Regions from separate parts of the Homo sapiens genome. Here all the other regions are linked to region 2. Evidence: fine-mapped expression QTL. A gene starts in region 2. Each other region holds a variant in brackets. All regions are shown on one strand. Distances are from middle to middle.

Region 1 (7,811 bases), 55 kb before region 2:
CGTGATATTCTGTAACCTCATTTCTTTCTCTTAACATCTTATAAACAATCTTTTAAACATACATGTAAATCTGCCAAATCTTTTTAAATTACTGCATAATAATCTGTGCCAGAAATATTCAGTGTATTTCACTTATATCTGCATCCTTATTCCTCACTATAGCTCTATGAGTTAGTATTATAATTATCCCATTTTACAGCTAAAGAAACTGAGTCCCAGAAATGTTCACAGAGAGCTGAGGTCACACAGCTGGTAAATGGCAGAACCAGAATTTAAACCCTGGCTGTGGGACTCCAGAACTTCAGTTCTTTTCTACTGTTCCTGGTATTCCACTGCCAAGATGTACTACCATTTATTATAATTAATCCTATATGATGGGCTTTCAGATCAGATCAATCACCCCTCTTTTTTTGTTTTGCTATAACAAACAAGGCTGCAATCAACATCCTCGTACTTACATCAGCCTCCACTTGTCTAAATTGGCCAGTTGAATTAATTCCTAGAAGTGAAATTTCAGAGTTAAAGGGTATGAGCATTTTAAATTTTGGCACACAGTGCCAAACTAATACAAATTTTGGATTAATTTGCACGCCTACCAACTGCATATGATAGAGATCACCATTCTCTTCTTAACCCTTGGCATCACTGAATCTGCACTGGCAATGGTCACTCTGACCTCCTCACTGCCAACTCTGACAGCTTTTTACAGCCTCATTCTGCTCAAAGCTCTGCCAGATGTACCCCTGTAGACTTGCCTCTCCCCCAGCTCTTCCCTTTGGGGTGCTTCTCTGGATTTCTTCTCCTATTTCCTTGGCATTTGAAATCTCTTCCCTGGCCCCTGTTCCCTATAAGACCTATGAATGTCATGGAGTCCTGGGTTCTCCTCTTGTCCTCTTCTCTAAATGTCCTCCCTCCCTAGAGTGGTGCACATTCTTAATTACTGGCCCAACAGCCATTCCCTCCTTCTCTTTTGCTAAAAGACCCTATTTGTTTAGGATTTACAGTGTCCAACCCCAGAGATTGAATCATGACTGGTCTAAACCAATTATGGCTATCCTGTTCCTTTCCTTGAGTTTCAGGTGACCATGTGACCTGCTTTTGGCTAATGAGAGGTACAGAAACATCAGCCAGGAGGCTTCTGGGATTTTCCTCTCTGACAAAAGGGGTAGTGGCCTATGAGGAGAGTGTTTTCCCCCACTATCCTCCTTCTCTCCTATTTAGAACACTGTTGGTGAGGGTGACATGCTTTGAGCTAGTGTGGCCAATTTATGAACCGGAGGAGCTAGCACAGCCATTTTATGGAATAGAAGAGAAAGGCTGAGTGAATCACAGAGCTACTAGTCCAGGGACCTGATGTCACTGAGCTGCTAAAAGAATGTGGAAGCCATTTATCTCCAAACTCCTTGCTAAACAATAAAAGAACCCATGATAAAAGCCATGATTGGATTTTCTGTTTCTTATAGCCAAATACCTCCTAAGAGATACATAATGATCATACATAATGATCATATATAATACTCTACCTTGATGGTGTCAACCCAGGTCCTTGAGTCTCAGAACTATATAATGATAATAATTAATAACAATAAGTTATCAAGTGCCTGTTATGATCTAGAACCTAAATTATATATATAATCATATACAATTTTATATACATTGTATATTTATATAATTATACACATTATAAAATTACGTATAATATATAATTAATATACATAATTTTATGTAAAATTTAAATATCACAACTACTCTATAAGGTTAAGTGCCATTATTCCCATCTTATTAGTGAGAAAACTGAACTGAGGCACAGAGGGATTAAGTAACTTACCCATGGTCATAAGTCTCCTAAGTGGCTGAGCTAGGATTCAAACCGGGGCAGTCTGGTCTCAGACTCCATACATCCAAATACTATGGATGACTAAAGGAACCTTGAATTGTACAGGTCCCAAATGGAGCTCATCAGCCTTCTCCCTCATAAATAGGCTCCTCATTCAAACTCTGTCTTGGTCAAGGCAGAAACTTGGGACTCTCTTTGGACTTGTACTTCTCTTTTCTACCCCATGTCCAACTGGTCACCACATACTGACAATTCTACCTTCTAAACATATTCTGAACTATTCTGCGATGCCTGGCTTGCAGTAAATGCTTACAAGTGCTGGCTGCTATTACCAGGCTCTTCATGACTAAGCTGCTGCTTCTTTTCAAATCTTTCAACCATCCTAAAACCTCCAGCCCACTGAACTTGCCTGGTCTACTGGCTCTTGTTGTACCGTTGGAGCCTTTGTATAGACTGCCTTTACTGCATTGAATGCCCTGTGCTACACTCTCCCTAATTAATTCTTCTACAATGTAGCCCATGTGTCAGGCCCACTAGGAGGCTTTTTCTGACTTCTCAACCTCCACAAATTGTTCTCCCAGCATGCTCTGCAGATCTCTGTCTCTGGCCTTATCATACTGCAGTTTAGTCATTTGTTTACTTATCTTTTCTCATCCATGTCAACTCCACATTCCCAAACCAAGTTATAACCTCCTCAGGAGAAGGATACAATATTTCAAACTCAATCCAGCCCCTTCCTTCAGCCCCTGCCCCTCCGTTGGTCTCTCAGTTACTGGCATCATTAAACTAGAAATTTCCATGTCATTTCTAAACTGAACAAGCCAATTTCTACCTCTGAAATGTTGTTTGAATCTATCCTTGCCTCTTCATTCCTAAGTGACTACCTGGATGCCTTAAGATCTCAGGCTTGATAGTTATGACAGAGTAGATCCTATTTCCATTTGGGACCTACTAAGGGCTTCCTGCAGAGTTGAGAGGTGAAGCTCATTGTCTGAAAGGTGGTCAAATTTGAACAAAGGCCGTCTAGCTACTTGTAAATGGATTATATCCATGTATTGAAATATATCTTACATTTTCTACCCACAAATTCGCAACAAGACCCAAAGACTCTAAATAGTACCTTGTTCCATGGTTATTTCATAAGAAAAGTGAGCTAAAGAATTGTTCAGTAGCTCCAGCAAAGTCTTCTTAAAACCAAGTATAGTATAAGTTAATTAATCAGGCAAGTGATCAATAAAATACAAGAAATGCAGCATTAAATAATACTGAGCTGCTCATTCCAAATAGTCCGACTCATTAGTTTGATCAATACATTACAAAGATGTAACAAGTGTAAAAACACAAGGGGCCTAAAAATACTTAGTTGATGTATTGCATCCATTATCAGAATGCACATATTTTTCAAGACACTTAGGTAGTCCCAGCAAATCCAACAATTAACTTTTGAAATAGCCAAATAGTAAGCAGAGTTTTGGTGAAGGTCTTCTATTCAAGCGTCCAATTTTGCAAATATTTGGAAAGACAGTGTGCCCAATGAAATATGCCTGAACTAGGGCTCAAATGGCCCTGCTACTTTAGGCAAGGTGGCCTTAGGCAAGTTGTTCAACCTCTAACTTTTCATCTGTAAAATTTGGGTAAGAATCCAGTTCTGTCTCCATCACAAGGCTGTCACAGAGCTCAAATGACAGGATGAATATGAACACAGTTTAAGCACTACTAAGTTCTCTAAGAATAAAAGCTGCATTTTGCAAAAAAGTCAGTCCATCTCTAAGGCAGGCACACGAGAAGAGAAGCTTTATTCATAGATTACTAAAAAACTAAGCTAATTTTAAAATTCTTTAAAGCATAGTCTGAAAACAATGATGTAATTAAAACAAAACATTTTGACACTGATTTTTTTTTAAATTAAAGAGCTGGGGATCTTTAGAATATGAGCCTAACTCTTTTTATTTGTGACCTCCATGGCTTTCAACTCAATGACAATGCTTAAAGAAACAATGACATTATTTTGGGGTCCTGAACCAGTTATACCTGGTCATTTGTTCAACCTCAACTTGAAAAGTGGTTTGTAATATTTTCCCTAATACCTCTGGAGAGTAAAATTAAATTTCTCACCAACATAGGAAAATGCAGCATATGCCAGGAAGGTCA[T/C]TGCCAATGAAAATGGGCCTGACACCAGCCCTGGAACATACAAAAGTTTCCCTTACACCGTAGCAATCTCTGGGCACCTGAAAAGAGGCCCTAAAGGCTGCTTTGCAAAGTTAGAGTGCCCTGTGCCCATCCTGGTAGCAAAAGTCTGCTGATCTGCTGTCAGCTACTGTGCAACACATGGAGGTCTTACTGGCCACATGCAGTGCCCAGCACTTAGTAGGTGATCAGGAAGCGTTGCCTGAATTGAAATGAAAAAAATGGCACATTATCTTCTGCAATGTGAAACCAATAGTGTGAGTCAACAGCCAGCTTCTTGACTTTCCCAATTTTAGTCTCCAAAACACTACTAAAATTATCATTTTAAAATTCCATTTTTAAAGTATTAATTTTAGATTAAACCAGATATGAGCTATCCTAAATTCTTTTTGAACAAGATTGGGTATATATTTCTTTTTTTAATGTGAGTATAAAAATATAACAGAAAAAAAACCCTTACTCTGAGAACTTGTTTTAAAGTACCCAATTGCAATAAACGAATAGTATGTTCAGTTGACTGCTAATCAAATTTAGAAAACAATAATCAATGCTATAGTTACATGGGTCCAAATAAATTATTTTGATATAAATGTATACTTAGATGGATATACTTCTGCCTTCTTGCTGACCCATAGAAAGCACATCAGTCTTCACCTGACAGATGTTTCACCAGTTAAACTTTCTCACACGTTTGCACAAGTAAAAATGTAAAGATCATAGAATTGGTTTTGTAAGCCACTTAGCCTCTTGGCAGTTCAGTTAAATGGATTGAGTTAAATGAGATCACATGTGTAAAGTGCGTAGCACTTAGTACATGCTCCCACAAATAGTAAACACTGAGAAAGGAAGGAAAGAAAGGAGGGTATACCCAAAAAGAAAGGAAGTTCCTGAGGCACCACCAGCAGGGAATCTAGGAAGAGGGAACTGCCATCAGAGCTTCTTCCCCTTTTCTTCCTTTCCCTTCCCAGCAAATGAATATAAAAGAATTAATCCCAAGATTGGATGACTCCAGAGAATAAGTCATCAACTATCCTGCCCTCTGCGGCCATCTGCACTGAACCATGAGAAGAAAAGGCAGTACTTGACACTTCAGAGATCCCTCCTAGAATCCGTGGCAACATGAACTTACCCCAGCCTGCTATGAGCCGGTCAGATAAGGCAGGTAAAGTCAAAGGTGACCTAGAGCCTGGATATTGTCCCTGAGACCCTGAGCCTCTGACACACTGCATTCAGGCAGCATGACTCACTCCATTCCTAACAAGGACATCGCCAAACAGCCAACATAAATATACAATGACTTACCTCCAATAGTTTCTTGTTCTTTGGTAATGGAAACACAAAAGCTTTGTTACTGAGTTTAAATTTACCCATAGTTAACAAGTGTCAATCAACCACATCTTTGACATATCAATTCAGAAATTATCAGAAACCTTAAGCATGTTTATGTTTCTGGGAAACCATCTTAATAAACTAATTTAAAATGTAAGTAAAGCATTCCTTGTGGCTATGGTCTGAATGTCCCCTAAAATTCATATGTTGAAAAGTAATAATCAATGTGATACTATTAAGAGGTGGAGGCTTTAGGAGGTGATTAAGTCATGAGGGCAGAGCCCTCATAAATGGGATTAGTGACCTTATAAAGGTCTTAAGAGATGAAACTGCTTATATTATCCCTTCTACCACCTGAGGACACAGTGCTTGTCCCCTCCAGAGCATGCAACAAGGCACCATTTGGAAGCAGAAAACAGTCCTCACCAGACACTAAACTTGCTGGCACCTAGATCTTGTACTTCTCAGCTTCCAGACTGTGAGAAATACATTTCTATTCTTTATAAATAACCCAATCTGTGGTATTTTGTTATAGCAGCATGAATGGACTATGACACTGGTCATACAGGTTATTCTGAGCATTTACACTCATAAGAAACAAGAAATAAGCTTTGAGCCAAACCTCAATGGGGAGAGGTTAAGTAGACTATGTTGTGCCCATTAAAAATGAGGCCTGCCCACAATTCTGTTAAGATTTTCTCCATAGACAGACAAGTGTGTGTGTGTACGTGCACAGACATACACAAAGACACATTTGTTTACAATAGAAGAAGGGTAAAAATCTATAAGGCCAGTAATAGTAACATCTATACAATGAGACATTTAAAATTTCATGTACCTCTGTATCTTTGTATTATAGCATGCATGTACTATTTTTATAATTAAATTAATACTTTAAAAAAGTATTTAAAAAGGCCACAGTCACAAATCTGCATGAGAAGAGGCAGGCCTCTGACCTGGTCCCTTGGAAATGCTTCCTGTGTTTTGTGTCCTTTAGTTTACAGTTGAAGATATGGCAGGTGCTCCTCCATTTAATACCAAAGATATTGGATGAAGGCGCAAATGCCCGACAGTAGGATTCTATGCCATCTCTCATGCACAGTGACGCCCCACTCAGTTTATTGTTGTTCACCACTGCCATGGACATAGCACCAGACCTTTCTCCTCCCAAACTCCAGATAGTCTCCACCACTTGATCAGAATTGACACATAAGATGAAACCTGCCATAGTTCCTTGAATCCAGGATGCCATTGCGTATAAGAGGTATCAATGATGCACTAACAGTTTATCTGGAAAAGGAATCCTACATTTCATGTACATATCAATTGTAAGATGCATTCTGACTTGTAAAATGCTACAATGTTAAAAATGGGCATTTTTGAATCTGTGGAATGCTGTGGTCACCCTCCTTGGTCTATGACAACCCCTCCTTTCCCTTCCCACCGATGGCCTTCCATGCCTGCTACCATCTCACTTGCTGTTAAGAAGCTACAGCACAGACATAAGGCACCAGGCTGCACCCACCTTGTCCACGTAGCTGCAAGATGAAGATCTAGGAGCCAGAAGTCACTGGCAGCCTCAGGTAAGCCAAGGCAGTTTGGGCTGGGCCAGAGACGGGAGTATGTGGGTCCTTCACACAGAGCTTCTCCCCCAGCATTAACTTCCAATTTGATGACAGTCAGAAGCTTCAGAAGAACCAGGCTTCTCTGATTACTATGTTTAATACTCCCCTTTCCCTAAAATCCACGATAATGGAAACAGGCTTTGACTTTCTTTTTCCCCGCTACAAAACACCCAAGGAAGAAACACCCTACAGGTTTGGGAAATCATTGCTGTATGGGCTTGAGCAAGAAGTAAATAACCTCTCTGAGTCTCTTCCTTCATCTCTAAAATGTTCATAACACTTTTCCTAGATTGCTTGTGAAGATTAGAGGTCAAGGAGACAGGGCACCCAGTCTAGAGCCTGGTATACAGCAGGTGCTCAGTAAATCTAGTGAGCCAGATTTCCTCTAGTTGGTAAACTGATTGCTCAATTGGCAATGTATACAATATTAGCAATATGACCTGAGAGAAAGACAAGCAACTTTCAAAACTACATTTAAGTTGTATGTACCCCAGAAGATCCTACTCAATAGGCAGGCAACACAGTCAATGGGACTTCAGGCAATTGCAGCCACAAACCCATTGGTGAGTTAGAGAATTGGGGGAAATAAGCTCCTTAACTCCCTCCTCCTTTCTTTTATTCCCCAAACAGAATGGCCAAGTTTATTAATTGACAGTTTTACTCAGAGAATGGCTCTAAAATGACTATAATTCTTTACTAATAGAGTAGATTTTTTTATTCCAAAACCTGACCAAATGGAAGTGGAGTAGAGTAGGTTTAGATTTCACAGTCTCTATGTTCCCCATGCCCACCTTTACTGATGAAACAGACAAGGCCGAGCAGAGAGAGTTTAA
Region 2 (7,811 bases):
GGAGGCCCTGGCCAGAAACAGAGCAGGCCTTTCAGAGCTTTCTAAAGCACAATTATTGCCGTTGGAGGGAGGGGGGACTGTGGGAAGAGGGAGGGAGAGTAGAGAGAAGTGGTGGGAAAGAAAAGGAAATCAATATAATACTAACAACTTGGAAAAGACAAAATAATGATCTCAACTGGATTCAGGTTTTGGGGAAGAAACTCCATGTTTCAGTCTTTTTTAATAGTGACCATTTTATTCCGGTCTAGAGTACCTAAAGACTGTACTTAGACAGCAGGCACAAAGAACAGAAGCTGCTTGGGGATGAACTGGAATACTGTGGACAAAGATTTGAGGCAGGAAAACAAGTCATTGATTCCAAGGATTGTGAGGAATCCTAATTCATGAAAAAATTAAAAAGCAAATAGAACACCAGGGGAATGCCAGCTTCACAGCCTTAAGTCAGGACAATGAGCAGAATGTGTTTGAGTTACTTTTAACATAATTATTCTAAGAAAGAAGGAGCCAACAGAAAATGTCACAAACTAGGCCAGTACCTTTTCTTTCGGACTTTGAGTGGCAGAATCAGGTTTGCTAATTGCAGGATATTTACTTGGAAAACCTCAGCATGGTTCCTGCAAGATCTCTTCCAAGGTCTTTTAGCCATAAGAAGGGAGAAAAGATGATTGCCCAATCTATAGCCTGAGTTGGGGTGTCAAAGTCCAGATGGCTGTTTAGGCAGGAGTAGCCTGTAGGGTGAAAGTCCAGGACACTCCCTATCCAGTCCCAGTTCCCCACCTGCTGGCCCTGGACGTTTAGGTAGTTCTGAAACCTCTTTGGCCCCGTGAATACCAGCTGTATCTCCTTCCCAGTGCTAGGGCCACCAGCTGCCAATGCTCAACTAAAACACGGAGGATTAGTGTGAAAAGAGACGCTGGGTACACTTGGCCTGAACCTCAGACTAGTCTAAGTCACTGAAAAAATCTTCCTGGGCTTGCATTAGCAACAGTCTTAGGCAAGGCTCCTGATATGAAAAAATACCTCATTCATTCATTCAATTAATTCATGAGGACCCAAATAACCACTGGTAGATGAATGGGACTGGAGGAGAGCTGAGGAAACCTGCTTTCAAACGCACAACACTCTTCAAAAACAAAAATCTGATCAAGAACCTACCTCCATTAGTAAACCAATAAAGGCCTCACATTCAACTGTTAGGCTTATTAGGAATCTCTTTTAGCTCAGGCACACTCACCTTTGTAAACTCATTTACTCCCTACCACCAAGAGAGGGTGGATAAACAGCTTTTTTTTTTTTCCAGCTAGGAAATAGGTGCAGAGAAATTAAATGACTTGCACAAGGTCACACAGCGAGTAAACCCAAGTCTGTTGGACTCCAGAGCCACTTCTTTCTCTGCTACGTGGAGCGGGGACAGTTTCCCCTGTGAACTCAGGTCCTCAGTTTTGGGGAGGGCCGAATAGGCCACTGAAGTCATACCCGCTTCCCTGCGGTCCACAGGGAGGATCGGCCGCCTCCCGGCTGCACCGAGTGGCAGTCGCCGCCCGTCGGCGCGGCTCGCTCTAGCCGCGGTGCCAAGCCGCGCGCTCCCTCCCGGGCTGGGCGGGGTGTTCTCCGCCCAGAATCTTTCTTCGTGGAGTACCCAGGATCCCGCGGAGCTGCGCGCCGGGGTCAGACTGTTCCTCGCAAAGTGCTCAGCACGCCAAGGTGCCAAGGGCACCAAGGAGCCGGCTTTGGGTAGCTCCGGGTGGAGAAAGTCGGGGACACAAACCCGGGAAAGGGGGAAAAGCGCTCCAAGAAGGGTGGCCCCTGGCTTTGGTCTCCGGCGTGACCCTGGCGCCCGCTGACGCTGCCCCAGACTTTCTCCTGTGTTGCTCCCACCGCTTCCGTCCAAGGCTCTCTGGGGAACTGGGAAGGCGAGGAGGAAAGTACAGCAGCTGGGAGCCCATTTGCCCCACCAGGTGCCCCAGTGACCCGCTCATCCCTGCTTAGCACCAGAGCTGACTTATGAAGGGGCGAGGGTGAGAGGACACGCTCCCTGGCGGGAGCTAAGGTGAGGCCAGACAGGCTCGCTTCCCTTCCTGGTTACCTGTCCCCCACCCGGAGAGCGGCTGCTGCTGCACGGGGAAACGATGTCTGGGGAGATGACCCTGCTGAGGAGCGAGGTGGCGGGCGTGGGGACAGAGTCAGGCGTCTTCAGATCGGTGCTGGTCGAACTGCCTGTCCCGCCTAGGAGGCTCTCACCTGCTTGGACACCTCCTCCCTGAGCTCCCGAAACCCCACTCTCAGCCGAGCGGCGTAGGCGCGACATCCCTGGGACGTGGAGACTCCGAGCTGCCGGAGCCAAGGTTCCCCGGCCTCCAGGGAGCAGGCCTCGGGCATCGGGGCTTCTCTTTCCATCTTCATCCAATTCCCCTTGCAGCTCGGAGCTTACCCCAAGCTCTTTGAGGACCCTGTCCCCACTGGGAACCTGTTCTGGAAACCCAAGATACTCTATCTCGTCTGGGACCACGAGAGAATAATTTGGGGTTCTTTCCAAGGACCCTTTCGAGGAGCTTTAGGCTGTCCCTGCCCCTCCTTCCCGCACCCCGGGACCGGTTAGGGAGAAGCCAAAGTCCCTTCTCCTGAAGGGACCTATCCAGGGAAGCCGGAGTGGCTGTCCCGCCCAGGGCCAGTCTTTGAGAATCGGGTACCCTCTCCTTCAGGGACTGAGCGGGGAAAGCTGGAGTGGCTGCCTTGCCCGGGACCCGACCAAGAGAAGCCTGGGTCCCCTCCAGACCGATTTGGAGAAAGGCAGTTTTACTTCCCTCCTGCAGACGGCCGGGGGAGAAGCGAGCCTCCCTTGCAGTCAGGCCGGCGTGACGTGTGGCTCAGTTACATCCTCCGCCTGGGAACCGCGCGTCGGAAACGCGGGGTGCCTCTCCTGGCTGCGGCCCCCGCGACGGCCCGGGACGCTGGATTATGATCCGCGCCGAGCTCGCGACTGCAAGGGCCGAGGGCAGCCAGGACAGAAGGGCCCTTGCCGGGCTGCACCCGCGCCACGCGCCCGGAGACCGCGCGCCCTCCTCCGGCACCGCGAGGTCGGCGCCCTCCGGGGACCGGGTCCCGCTCTCCTAATGCCACGCCGGGCGGCCACTTACCGCGGTAGCTGGTTCCCGGCTTGTAGAAGTCGGGGTCGCCCTCCACGCGGAGGCTGAACTCGGTGTAGCCCTCGCGCCGCGTGCCCTGGGCGCGCAGGATACGGCTGCAGTAGCCCTCTGACTTGGGCACTTTGTCCAGGGTCTCGTCGGAGAAGGCCAGCGCCGCGGCCAGGGGCAGCGCCAGGGCCAGCAGTGCCGGAGTCCGGCTCAGCTTCAGGGGCGCCGGGGACAGCCTCATCTTCGCGGCCCCCAACTTTGTGCCGCGGCCGCAGGCCTTCGCCACGCGACTCCTGCCCGAAGTGGTCCCGACGAAGGCGCGACCTGGCGGAGGCGCGGCGGAGAGAGGGAGCTCGGAGCTGGCGTCCGCGACTCGGAGACCGTGCCCGCCTCGGCTTGGCGGCCGCGGAGCTGCGCTGAGCTGAGCTGAGCTGAGCCAAGCGAACGAGAGCAGCGCGAGGAGGGGAGGGCCGCGGCGAAGGAGCGGGAGGAGGGAGGGCTGATTTTGCCCAGATCCCCCAGCGCAGCGCTGTTTTGTTTCCTCCGAACTGGCGATTAGCGGCGCGGCCGTGTTTATTTTGCGACGTTGGATTCCCAGGGTCTGACGAAGAAACCGTGGCATACCGGACCCTGTGGGCTCTGTCCCATCGCCTAGGAGGCTGCTGCTCCAACCCCCAGCTACACTCCGGACCCTCTGGAGGACGGCGCTCAGAGGAGGGAAAGCCTGAGAAATAACTTTTGTTGCACACCTGCTCTGTGCCTAGCAATATGCTTGGCGGCTTACTTACTGTATCGACTCGCCTTCATGTTCCCTACTCCCAATAAAGATTACATTACTTTCGCTCACTTTATAGATGAGCAAACTGTGACTTGCGACCAGTTACAGCAGGGTTAGATGCGGCGACTCCGGGCCCATTGCTCTTCCCAAGGCCATAGTGGAACATGTCAGACTGGAGGCTGAGAAAGGAGAAACGACTTAGCTACAGCGCTTAGGGCCCACGATACTTTTGGAGATCTATGAAAATGTTTTCTGTAAAAATCAGAAGAAAAAATTTATGTCAAACAAAATGTTTTACTATATAATGTTAATATATTTGTATTTATACCTCCACAGTCATAAAATATGCTTGACTTGGAGGAAAGAGCCAGCAAAGGCAAAAGTGCCTAAGGCTCAGGAAGGTCCTCCTACAGCCCAGGAAAGGAGTTTCCAAAGATTCAATGAAGAGCCTGTGTTTTCTTGGCTTACATTTTAGTTCAGATTCTCACTCCCCAGGGACAGATGTTCAGAGAGGTGCTGAGCCTGAGGGCCTGAAGGGAAAAGACCTGGGGCAAGAATCTCTCCCAGTGTCTCTCTGGGAAGAGACCCGAATCAAACCTCAGTCCTGCCACTCACCCATTGTGAAGCTTGGGCTAGTTATCGCACTCTCCAAGCTTGTTTCCTGCTCTGGAGAACAAGGAAGTGGGGGTGGGTGCCAGTACATCCTTCTTAGAGGTAGTGGGGTGATATGCTAGAAGTAAATGATATGACCCATATAAAACACTCTAGTTGGTCTCTAGTGGCGCCTGCTCCCTCACCCGCTTGGGGATACCATAAGCCCCCTGCCTCTCAGTGCACACAAACATCCCTCCCCAGGTGCCCTCAGAAGCTTTGGTTTCCTCGTCTTCTCTTTGCCCAGGGCCTTCGACACACCTCAAGTGCCTACAATTAGCAAGCAATCTCCTTTGCTTTCCAGGTCAGGGTTTTCTCTTTCATAATGCTACAAACAGGCCCAGGGCGCTAGGTGCATGGGAGATCTCCATTCCTCCCTGCCTGCCCACTTACTCCTTAGTGCTTGTGCTGGAATTCCCACTGCCACTATTAACTGGACGCCTTCTCTCAGAGGTCACCTGAAAGTAACCCCTTGCTGAAGCCAATTATGCTCTTCTCTCATCCCTAGCCCTTCTTGACCCTAGCAGCACCTGATCCAGCTGATCGGCCCTCCTTTTTGAGGTGAGGCTCAGATCCATGTCTGAGTGCTGAGGGAATTGTCTGCATCTTCACTCGACTGGCTCAGAGCTCATGCTGCACTCCAAGTTGCACGGTCCCATTCATCCAGCAAACTTTCATTAAGTGTAGATTTGGAGCTAGACTCTGTGCTGACCGGTAGGTAGAAGACGGAACAAAAATTCATCCATCCATCCATCCATGCATCCTTCTATCCATCCATTCATTCATGACAAAGACCCTCCACGTGCTCAGTGCTTGGATACAAAACACAGATATGTTACTTGCCTTTGAGGATTTTACAGGCCTGTGGCAAAGGCAAATATTAAATACATAATTATATGAATCTTTTAAAATTATAATTGTGATGTATGCTACAAACTAAAATAAGTGGTTCTTGAAAGTGTACCTGATCTTATCTCAGAGGGCAGGAAACTACAGAAATGAATAAATTGTGACCCCTGTCTTCACAAAGCTTATTTTATGTCTGAAAGCTCAAATCTGTGCTCTTGAACCTCTATTCATCTACAAAAGGTTCAAATCTAAGTTGGAGATGGGTGGGCATGAAGTAGGCAGGAATGCAATATTTAACTTTTTATTGGATATTGACAGGAAAACTATGGGAAGTAGGCAGTCCCAATTCACCTCCGCACTCCCATTGTTCAGATTAGGAGCCTATGAAATTACCTGCTGAGGTAATGTTCCATGGCTATTAAGGGAAAGAGCCAGGATTTAAAACAGGCATCCCCAACACCAAATGAGGTACTTTCCAGTACACAGTGTTCGCCCTATCATCTGGGCTATGACGGCAGGCTCTAACCAGCTCACCAAGCTCCAATCCCACTACATGAGCTAGGTTTTCCTAAACCAGCTTGGCTGTCACTCAGACCTCTGCTGTCTTCTCCACTCATCCGATCCATCACCACATCAAGTTTCACGCTCTTCTCCACCACTACCCCTGTCTGTGTTGACATCCTCTCTCATCTTCCTAACTGGGTTGCCCTTGTCTACTTGTGCTCTCCTTCCATCTGTCTTCTGCACTGAAGCCCAAGTGATCTTTTTAAAAATGCAGATTTGAATGTCAATCCTGAGGTTAACATTTTTTCTTGGTGGTTTTTCAGGGCTCTCAGAATAAAGACAGAATCTTCAGCCAGGCCTCCAAGGCTCTGCTTGATCTGCTTCTCCAGCCATGCAGCTCTTCTCTCATGGGCTTTGCCTGTGCTGTTCTCTCTGCCTGGAATCCTATCATGCTCTTTGGTCTCTCCTAGCCACCACTCTCCATTGGCCAACTCCTATGTACTCTTCAGATCTCAGTGCAAAACTGCCTCCCCAAAGAAGGCCTTTCTGATTTCCTAGAATAGATCCAGCCCCCAAAACTCTGCTGAAGCTCATGAGTACCTTTTCTTTTAATCTCCTCCTCCTCCTCCTCCTTCTTCTTCCTTCTTCCTCCTCCCTCTCCTCCTCCTCCTTCTTCTTTCTCCTTTCTCCTTTCCTCTTTCTTCTTTCTTCTTGAGGCAGGGTCTTCCTATGTTGCTCAGGTTGGTCTCAAACTCTTGGGCTCAAGCAATCTTCCTGCCTCAGCCTCCCAAAGTGTTGGGACTACAGGCATGAGCCACCACACCTGGCTTCTTTTAATATTAAGATTTATAATGACCCATTGATTTATAAGTTTGATGTTTAAAATTTTACATTTGTTCAGTATTTGTCTCCATTCTAAATTCTAAGCTCCAGAAGGGTAGGGGATGTCTATGGGGCTTACCACTGTATTTTCCGTGCACATCGTAGTGCCCGGCCCCTGGTAGGGGTTCCATAAATATTTTTTCTCTGAATAAAAACTTTTTAACAAGCCTACCCTCAGTGCCTTCTGACTCTGCCCAAATTTTAAGACTTGGCCTCTAAGGCCATCCACAATCTGGTCTCACTGTGTCCATCTGGTCATGCCTGGTCATAGATCCCAATCTGAGCTCCCAGCACCACCCAGCTGGGCTCCCCGTGTCCTCCACTTCAGTATTGCCTCAGCACCTTTGCTTACAGCTTTCTCATGGCCTGGAATGCCCTCCCTCCTCCTGCCTGATTAAATTTTCCTCCATAGAATGAGATCCTGCAGTCTCCCCTCCTGTGGACTTCAGTAGAACTGAGGAGGAGAAAAAGTTTCCCATTTTGACTACTGTGGTCCAGTGGATTGTCATGAACTATTTCATGTGTCTATTTCTCATCTCCTAGCAATGAATCCAGTTTACTTTCCCCTTAATTTCCTGTTCAGATGTTTTGTTCTTTTGTAAAATATACTGGACTTCAAGAAATCTCCTTCCAGTTTTTGTAGCCTAAGGCAGAGCTGATGTCAGTTGCTAGGGTGTTGCTAAGGAAAGTCATTTAGCCAGGGCAGATAATTAACTTTATCAGTGTGTGTGGGTAGGTCGCAGAAGAGAAGAGCTGGGGGCTCCAGTTCTCCAAGGCGAGAAAAGTCCTTTGATTCATAGGAGGTAAGATCTCCCTCTTTTTTCTCCCCGCTTTAAGAGAGAAGGGGGAAAAGGATTTTCTAGATTAGTGTTTTTCTGAGTATGGTCATTGAAACATGAGCATCAGATGTTTGCTTCAAAGGCAGATTCCGAAACCTCATCCCAGACCTACTAAATCTGTACTTTGAAGAAAAACTCATACTGAAGTTTAAGGAACCGTCGTCCTAGACCGTA
Region 3 (7,811 bases), 290 kb before region 2:
TGTTTCCAGACACATGCAGGCTCATTGTAGGTAATTTTGAAAAGCTCAAGGCTTATTTACATGCCATGGCTTCATCTTCCCAATGATCCCATACACAGTTGTCATGGTAAGAATAAGAGCAGCTGCTATTCATTGAGTACTCATCATGTACCAGCACCATTCTAAGAGCCTTACATGTTTTATCCCATTTAATTCTGACAACTGTATGAAGCAAGTTCTTTTATTATCCCCATTTGACTGTTGAGGAAACTGAGACAGAAAGGTTAGCTTCTTGCCCAAGATCACATGTCTACTGAGAGTCCAGGTTGTCTGGCTCCAGATCCCATAAGAAAACTTGAGCTTGAACCATGACTCTGTCGCTCCCTCCTGATTGTAGGATCTGGGCCTTTCTTTGCTTGCTAGGAAAGTGAATGTATCCACACCTGCCTCATAGGCTGGCCTGAGAATCGAAGCAGAGAGTGGTCTGAATCCTGCGAAGCCCATTAAAATGAGATTTACATGATTGTTTTAAAGGCCTGATGTTGTTGAGTATATATTCTGATGTCATATCTTCACCAATTCCCTTATGCTTTGGGCCTAACCTTGGCCTTGTTTTTGATTATTTCTTGAGGAGAAATCCTCAGAGATATGATTACCAAGTCAAAGCACATGGTTTATGGTTCTTAAAACAGGTTAGCAAATTGCTTTCTCAAAGGGTTATGTCAATTTATGTTGCCACCTGCAACAAAAGAAAACAACGTACCTTCATCTTTCTCTTCTGGAGCCAGGTCAGCTACAATATCATCGACATTGTCAGGTACAATATTGCATTGTTCACCCTGAAAAAGGAATTTTACTTGGAGGGCTCACATGAGAGAAAGAAGGGAATGTGTAGGGGGAAGGTGAAAGAGGACTAAAATCTAATCGCCATTCTGTATACAAATCGTATGCCATGGCAAAGTTCTGGACCAACATTTACAATCTGCCTGAGAAAGAAATGCCAAGAAAGCAGGAATGGCTAACCAGGGATGATAAATACATAACTTGGGTACCACCACTCCCCAGTTCCTGGCCCATGGCAGATATTAGTAATCAATTGCAGAACTCACAATGAAAGCAATTTGCCTGGATCAAATTGTTCATTTGAGCACTGGGCCTCACTGCTGAGTTAATTTTGCTCATTTTCTTTTTTTTTCTTTTTTCTTTTTGAGATGGAGTTTTGCTCTTGTCACCCAGACTGGAGCGCAATGGCGCAATCTTGGCTCACTGTAACCTCCACCTCCAGGGTTCAAGCAATTCTCCTGCCTTAGCCTCCCGAGTAGCTGGAATTACAGGTCCCTGCCACCATGCCCAGCCAATTTTTGTATTTTTAGTAGAGATGGGGTTTCACCATGTTGGCCAGGCTGGTCTTGAATTCCTGACCTCGGGTGATCTGCCCACCTTGGACTCCCAAAGGGCTGGGATTACAGGCATGGGCTACAGTGCCTGGCCTGCTTATTTTCATCTTATGAAATAATTTGCATGTTAGAAACCTGGGGAGGCCCAGGAATTCCATATCCTGAGGTGCTTTCTGCCAGTGACTCTATGATTCTAGAGCAGAAGGGTGTACAATCTCCCTGGCACTCCTACCGGGAAAGGTCGATGCCAGAGTGGGTTCTAACCCAGTACCTTCCGTGCGATTCTCTCGATGACAACTCTGGCTACTTGAGTGATGGACCCACCCTCTGGGTCATAGAAAGGACTCTGAGGATGGTCCAGGCTGGTCAGGGGCCGGATTTTCTCCTGGGGAATGGTGGGTTTGTTGGGTGACTGCAAGAAAACATACAGAGGTAGAGAGTAAGAAATAAAATTGGGAAAACCCACAAAAGCCATTTGTTATATGGATCAGAGCAAAGTCCTTGATAGGAATTTAACAAGCATAACTACTATTTATATTTATGGAATTGTGTTCATGCCACATACTGTGCTGAGAAATTTCTAGAACTATATTTTAAAATTCTTCCATGTCCATGGTAGGATTGTGCTAAGATGAAGAAGCCAAGTTTCAGAGAGGCCATCCCAGCTAGGAAACGGCTGAGCCAGGTTGGCCTGAATCCCAAACTCTTTCTAATAGACCCGGCATTGGAAAACTTTTTTAGTAAAGGGCCAGATGCTAAATATTTTAGGCTTTGTGAACCATATTGTGTCTGTTGCTAATATTCAACTCAGCTGTGGTAGTGAGAAAACAGCCGCAGATAATATGTACTTGGAGGAGTGTAACTGGCTTTGAAAACTTTATTGACAAATCACATTGTAGGGCAGATTTGTCTTCCAAACCATAGTTTGCAGATGTCTGTTCTAGATTGTTCTCCCATTGGTTTTCTGATGGCTCCAGATTTCAATGCAATAGATCATATCAGAGAAATATGACATTCAGGACAGAATGCAAACTCCTTAGCCCAGCTGTCCAGAAACCTTCGCTCTTGCAGTCATGGCTTTGGAATGCTGTCCCCTGCTCACCTGGGAACTGCTCTTTAGCAGTTCCCTCTCCGTGCTCTCCTGGCCACTGCACAGACAGTTCCCAGAGCCCAAATTACACCATATGTGATGATGCGACCATGCCAGCCTCCCCAGCCAGACTGAAAGTTCACCTAGGACAGAGCCTGGGACAGATCCCCTCTGTGTCCAGGACACTCAGGAAGCGGGTAGGCAAGGAGCCACTCACCACTCCAGGCACACACACACACCTCATAGGTCACCCCGCTGTCGGTGCCAGCGTCCCAGGGAATCAGGTCTTGCACCACCTTCTGGACCCAGCCACATTCCTTGGTGCACAGATCTTCTGCAGATAAGCCTACGTTCCAGTCGGGACTAGGGCCCATCATGGTCAGGAAGGACATTAAATGGCGCGTTCTGTCCACGGAAAATTCAGCTGAAGGTGCTGCTCTCCTGGAAACGAAATACAGAGACCATTATATTAGAGTTCTGGGGGTTGGTCCTCACTCTGAGGGAAATCTGCCTGGATTATGAAGAATGAGAGGGACAGAGAGTATCCACATTCGTGGTCTCCCACTGAATTCTGCCTTTGGCCACTGTGGGTTTATACCCTTCTCTGTCCTGAGCCCATCCATTGAACAAATGTGGAGAGAACCATATACTACCACCCTATCCAGTTTCTCTTTTTGTTTTTCTTTCAGAGACAGAGTCTTGCTCTGTCACCCAGGCTGGAGTGCAGTGGTGTGATCATGGCTCACTGTTGCCTCAAACTTCTGGGCTCAAGTGATCCTTGCACCTCAACCTCCCATCAGAGGGGTCATCTCCCCCAGCTTCCTGTTTCTATTGCCCTCAGAAGGCTGCCAATAGCAGGCACTGTCCAGCGCCAGACTGTACCCATCAGCTCACAGCTGGGAAGCAGGGACCAGCTGTAGAGTCAGAGACCTTTGGCCGACACCCCCAGTTGCTGGGAATAACA[T/A]CCTGAGTCTAAGCTATCAGAGGCCGCTCTTCAACCTCTCTCTTTGTGTCACACAGATTCTCAGGAGTGGCTGGGACCATGTGAGATACATGGCAGCAACCACTCAGAGTGGCTGGAAAGGAAAGAGTCACATTCGCAAAGCACACAGCGGGTGGCAGTCCCATATTATTTCATTTTCCCCTCATGACAATCCTGTGGGGTTAGAATTATTATCCTGTCTCATAGAGAGGCCATGAAAGTGAATAAGTGGTTAATGAACTAATAGACACAGCTAGGAGGGGGCTGAGGCTTGAAGGCAGCTTGGCCTGACTCTGCACCCCAAGGCTGCTAATCATGGGGAATCCTTGGCCAGAGACCAACTGTTCTGTTCAGTCCAGCTGGCAGCTGGTCTGCCTCAGCTGTCTGGAAGTCCCTGTGCCCTCTGTTGGGACCAGCTGCTTCTGGCTGCCCTCACCTGGCACCAGAAAGCAATGACTGCAGACCCGACTGGGGCCTGGGGAACTGGGCCCCTTGGGCTCTGGTATCACCTGTTACAGCTGTGTGTCCTTGGGCAGATTATCAAACCTTTCTGCGTCTCAGTGTCCAAATCTTTAAAATGGTGATCACATACGTCTACTCCAAAGGGTTCCTGTGAATTTCAAATGAGCTAGCTTGCAGACAGTACTTAGCCCATTGCCTGGCCCTAGAGCTCTTATTACCATTAGTGTTACTGAGAGAAGTACTGTAGGATCGTATGGAGATCAGAAAGGGGACAGGTGGGAGGAAAAGCCTTCCTGAATGGACTTTCCATTTTAGCCTGATGCCAGTCTAGGTTCTGCCACAGGAGTGGAGAAGAACCTGGCCTGAGCCTTGGCTTTGGCATCCGTCGATTGACAAGGTCCTGGTGCTGCCTCCCATGCACCCCCTCCCTTATCCCACACTACCTGCTACCTAAGAAGCTCCCTGGGCCCTGACAGGCCAGTCTACCTGCAGGTTAGCTGCAGGTTCCACTTGTACTTGCATCTATTGGGCAAGCTCTTCAGTGATTGGAAAAGTGTGGTCCTTGGACCAGCAGCATCAGCAACCTCTAGGAACTTGTTAGAAATACAGATTCTTGAGCCCCACCCTATATTTGCTGAATTAGAGACTTGGGGTAGGACCCAGCAATTTGTTTTAATAATCCCTCCAGATTGTAATACACCTCAAGCTTGAGAATGCTGGGCCCACTCATCTTTCAAGCCTCAGGTCATGTCACCTCTTCCAGCAGCCTTTCTGCCTGCCTTCAGCTGAGGCAGATACATAGCGCTGGATTCCCACACTCTGCGCAGGTCTTGCCTTCAGCTGAGGCAAGTACATAGCGCTGGATTCCCACACTCTGCGCAGGTCTTGCCTTCGGCTGAGGCAAGTACATAGCGTTGGATTCCCACACTCTGCGCAGGTCTTGCCTTCGGCTGAGGCAAGTACATAGCGCTGGATTCCCACACTCTGCGCAGGTCTTGCCTTCGGCTGAGGCAAGTACATAGCGCTGGATTCCCACACTCTGCGCAGGTCTTGCCTTCGGCTGAGGCAAGTACATAGCGCTGGATTCCCACACTCTGCGCAGGTCTTGCCTTCGGCTGAGGCAGATACATAGCGCTGGATTCCCACACTCTGCGCAGGTCTTGCCTTCGGCTGAGGCAGATACATAGCGCTGGATTCCCACACTCTGCGCAGGTCTTGCCTTCGGCTGAGGCAGATACATAGCGCTGGATTCCCACTCTGCGCAGGTCTCCATAGCCAGACCCCATGAATGTAATCACTTCCTCACTGTTCCCTCTCCCCAGCTTAGACCGGGAGTTCCTTGAAGGAACTCTGTGTTTCATAGCTGTACCCCAGGACCTAGGTGTCCAGTGGGCCGACTGAACAAATATGCGTATGATGACTTGAACTCCTCCACTTCTAGCTTTAGATCTTGGGCAAGTTGCTCACCCTCTTCAAGTCTCAATATCTTCATCTAGCAATACATACCTGCAGTGTTGCTGTCAGGATCAAATGAGATGCTTTATTAGGAAGTCTTTATAAACTGCTAAAGTATTGCAATGACATCATCAGCTACTTAGGCACAAATCAGGGGATTTAATTTCCTTTTCCCACGTGTGCATTTTCTGGCATGTAGGTCAGTGATTTTAGCAGCTTCTTTAAAGACCTGGTTCACACAAGGATTGCAGTCTATGGAGGTGTGGCATTACCTCGCCTAGGGACTCACAGGACGGGGTTCTGGTCTGCCTTCTAGTAACTGCTGAGCAGACAGCACTGGCACCTGGGTGCAGCTGTCCTCTGGGGTGGTCCAGCAGTCCCCTGGGAGGCAGGTTTCCTCTTCCATTGTCATAGAGACTGACCGCTCCATCTATTGCCTTCCTGTCTTCCTAAGTAGGTGATTTGGGGCCAGATTAGTCATTCATATCCTGTACCCCATGGGTGACTATTCATAATGACAATCTAAGGGGACAAAACCAGTTCTAATCCAGAGCTGTAGAAACCAAACCAACTGCCACCCTAACACATTACCCTGGAACCTGCCCAGCCAATGGGTGTAACCATCTGAGACCAAGGCCTTGTGGAAATCATTCTCAGTAAATGCATTTTGGCCCAATCTGTTGTATCCAAATCTGTAGCTGAAGCGAGATACCCTCTAGACCCTGGTAAGTGTTTCAAGGTGTGGGAAACGTGGGGCGGCCAATTCCTGACTATGAGGTCACATGGCTGACTTATCTTGGGTGATAGAGTAAATCTGAATCTATAAGGGCCTGAGAACAATTTGATAGCATTTTCAGATATGCCCTGCAGCTTTCTCTTATCCTTGACTGGAGAATCCCTCCTTGACCCCATTTATGTAACATTTCCTGGAGGAGGTATTTCCTGACCTCTCCCCAAATTGCTTAGAACTCCTATTCTACCTCCCCATAGCATGCTGAACTCACTCTTGCTTTGGAATTTTTTGTTAATATCTGCCTTTCCCATCAGGTTCCAATAGAGTGAGGACCATTTCTGCCGTGCTCATAGCTATATCCCAATGTCTGGCTTAGAACTTGGCATGCCATGGATTCTCTTCAAATGTTTGTTGAAGTAAATGACTTAATCTAAGAAATGAACATGGAGCTCTTGTATTTCCTTTGACCTTCAAATTTAATTAAGCATCACTTCAAAGTATTTATTCTATAATAAAAATAATTAAATGAATAAGAATCTATATGAGTTTTCCTTAGAAAATGCTAGATAGGACTGGAGTGCTTTAATTTGTTCAAACTGTCATAAAAATTTTTATGCTTTTGTATATGCCATGTCTTCCAAGATATATTTTGTTAATTTGGTTTCATCTTTCTACCTGGGACTTAGATTTGTATCCGTTTTCTAGCAGAGAGTTGATCTAGCCATACCATATACCAGAGTATATGATAAAGCATGATAGACAAAATAGCGTGATATTCAGGTAAGATAGAAATATAAATCAGCAATACAGACTGGAGATCCCAGAAACTATAGATAAGGACTATACAAAATAGGCTTTTCAAATTAGGGGGAAAGGAAAGATTGTGCGACAAGTGGGGTTGGGCTAAGTTAACTGTAATAAAAAAAAAACTGGATTCACATTTAATATACCACACAAGAAAAAAAAAAAACAGACCCAGAGTCAAATAGAAAATAACCAGATCATAGAAAAAAATAAAGCTTTCAGATCTACTAGAGAAATATTAATTTTTTCAACTTTGAAACAATAAAAGCAATTATAAAGAAAAGAATTGAATTATCTATCAACGAAGACCTTCTGTAAAATGAAAACAGCAGTACTGAATTGGAGAGAAAAATGACATGCTGGCAAAAAATGTCTCCATTGAGTGTGACTGACAAAGTGTTAATATCTATATTATCTACAGAGTTAATCCAAATATGTAGAAAAAGACAATGATCCCACTAGATAAAGAAAAGTTATGAACAGACAATTCACATCAGATATGAAGACCCAGAGAAATGTTTCCTTTTTCTACATTTGGAGAGGCAGCATGGTGTGGAGGAAAGAACCCAGGGCATTGGTGACAGTCAGAGCTGGATTCGAATCAGCTGTTTATTTAATAGCTATGTGATGAGGGCTTCCACCTCACCTTTCTTTGCAATTACTACATCTGCCAAATGGGAGCATCATCATCCTACCCCAAGGTTTTATTGTGAGAAAACTGCTTATCATTGTGAGGGACACATAACAGGGCTTGGTAGAGGTTGATTTTCTTCTCATTCAACTTTTCCAAACAAAATGTTCCAAAACACCATAAAAGAAAAGAGGTAAGAAAGGATTTTGATACTGCTTCTAGAGACTTACCATCCCCTCCTAAATTACAGATCCACACCAGTGAGACTCAGGAGGGTT

Evidence for each region. PIP is the estimated chance that this variant, and not a neighbour inherited with it, causes the effect. A credible set is the group of variants that fine-mapping cannot tell apart.
Region 1: its variant is the best candidate, but not a certain one, in a credible set for the expression of SPON1 in testis (GTEx, PIP 0.64).
Region 3: its variant is the best candidate, but not a certain one, in a credible set for the expression of SPON1 in lung (TOPMed, PIP 0.62).

The regions. Positions count from the first base shown.
Region 1 is chr11:14,013,252-14,021,062 of GRCh38, reverse strand. All of the region lies in intron 2 of SPON1 (spondin 1), which reads right to left. Among named protein-coding and RNA genes, the nearest start is that of SPON1, 54 kb to the right of the region's middle. The variant T/C (reference allele first, on the strand shown) is at 3,989.
Region 2 is chr11:13,958,469-13,966,279 of GRCh38, reverse strand. It overlaps SPON1 (spondin 1), which reads right to left and starts at 3,557. Exons shown (of 16, transcript NM_006108.4): 1 at 3,138-3,557. The coding sequence starts at 3,375. It overlaps LOC124902637 (a long non-coding RNA gene), which reads right to left and starts at 3,123. Exons shown (of 2, transcript XR_007062602.1): 1 at 1,235-3,123. RefSeq lists an enhancer at 1-272.
Region 3 is chr11:14,249,624-14,257,434 of GRCh38, reverse strand. SPON1 (spondin 1) reads right to left here. Exons shown (of 16, transcript NM_006108.4): 8 at 2,706-2,907; 9 at 1,648-1,788; 10 at 743-818. Among named protein-coding and RNA genes, the nearest start is that of RRAS2, 110 kb to the left of the region's middle. The variant T/A (reference allele first, on the strand shown) is at 3,431.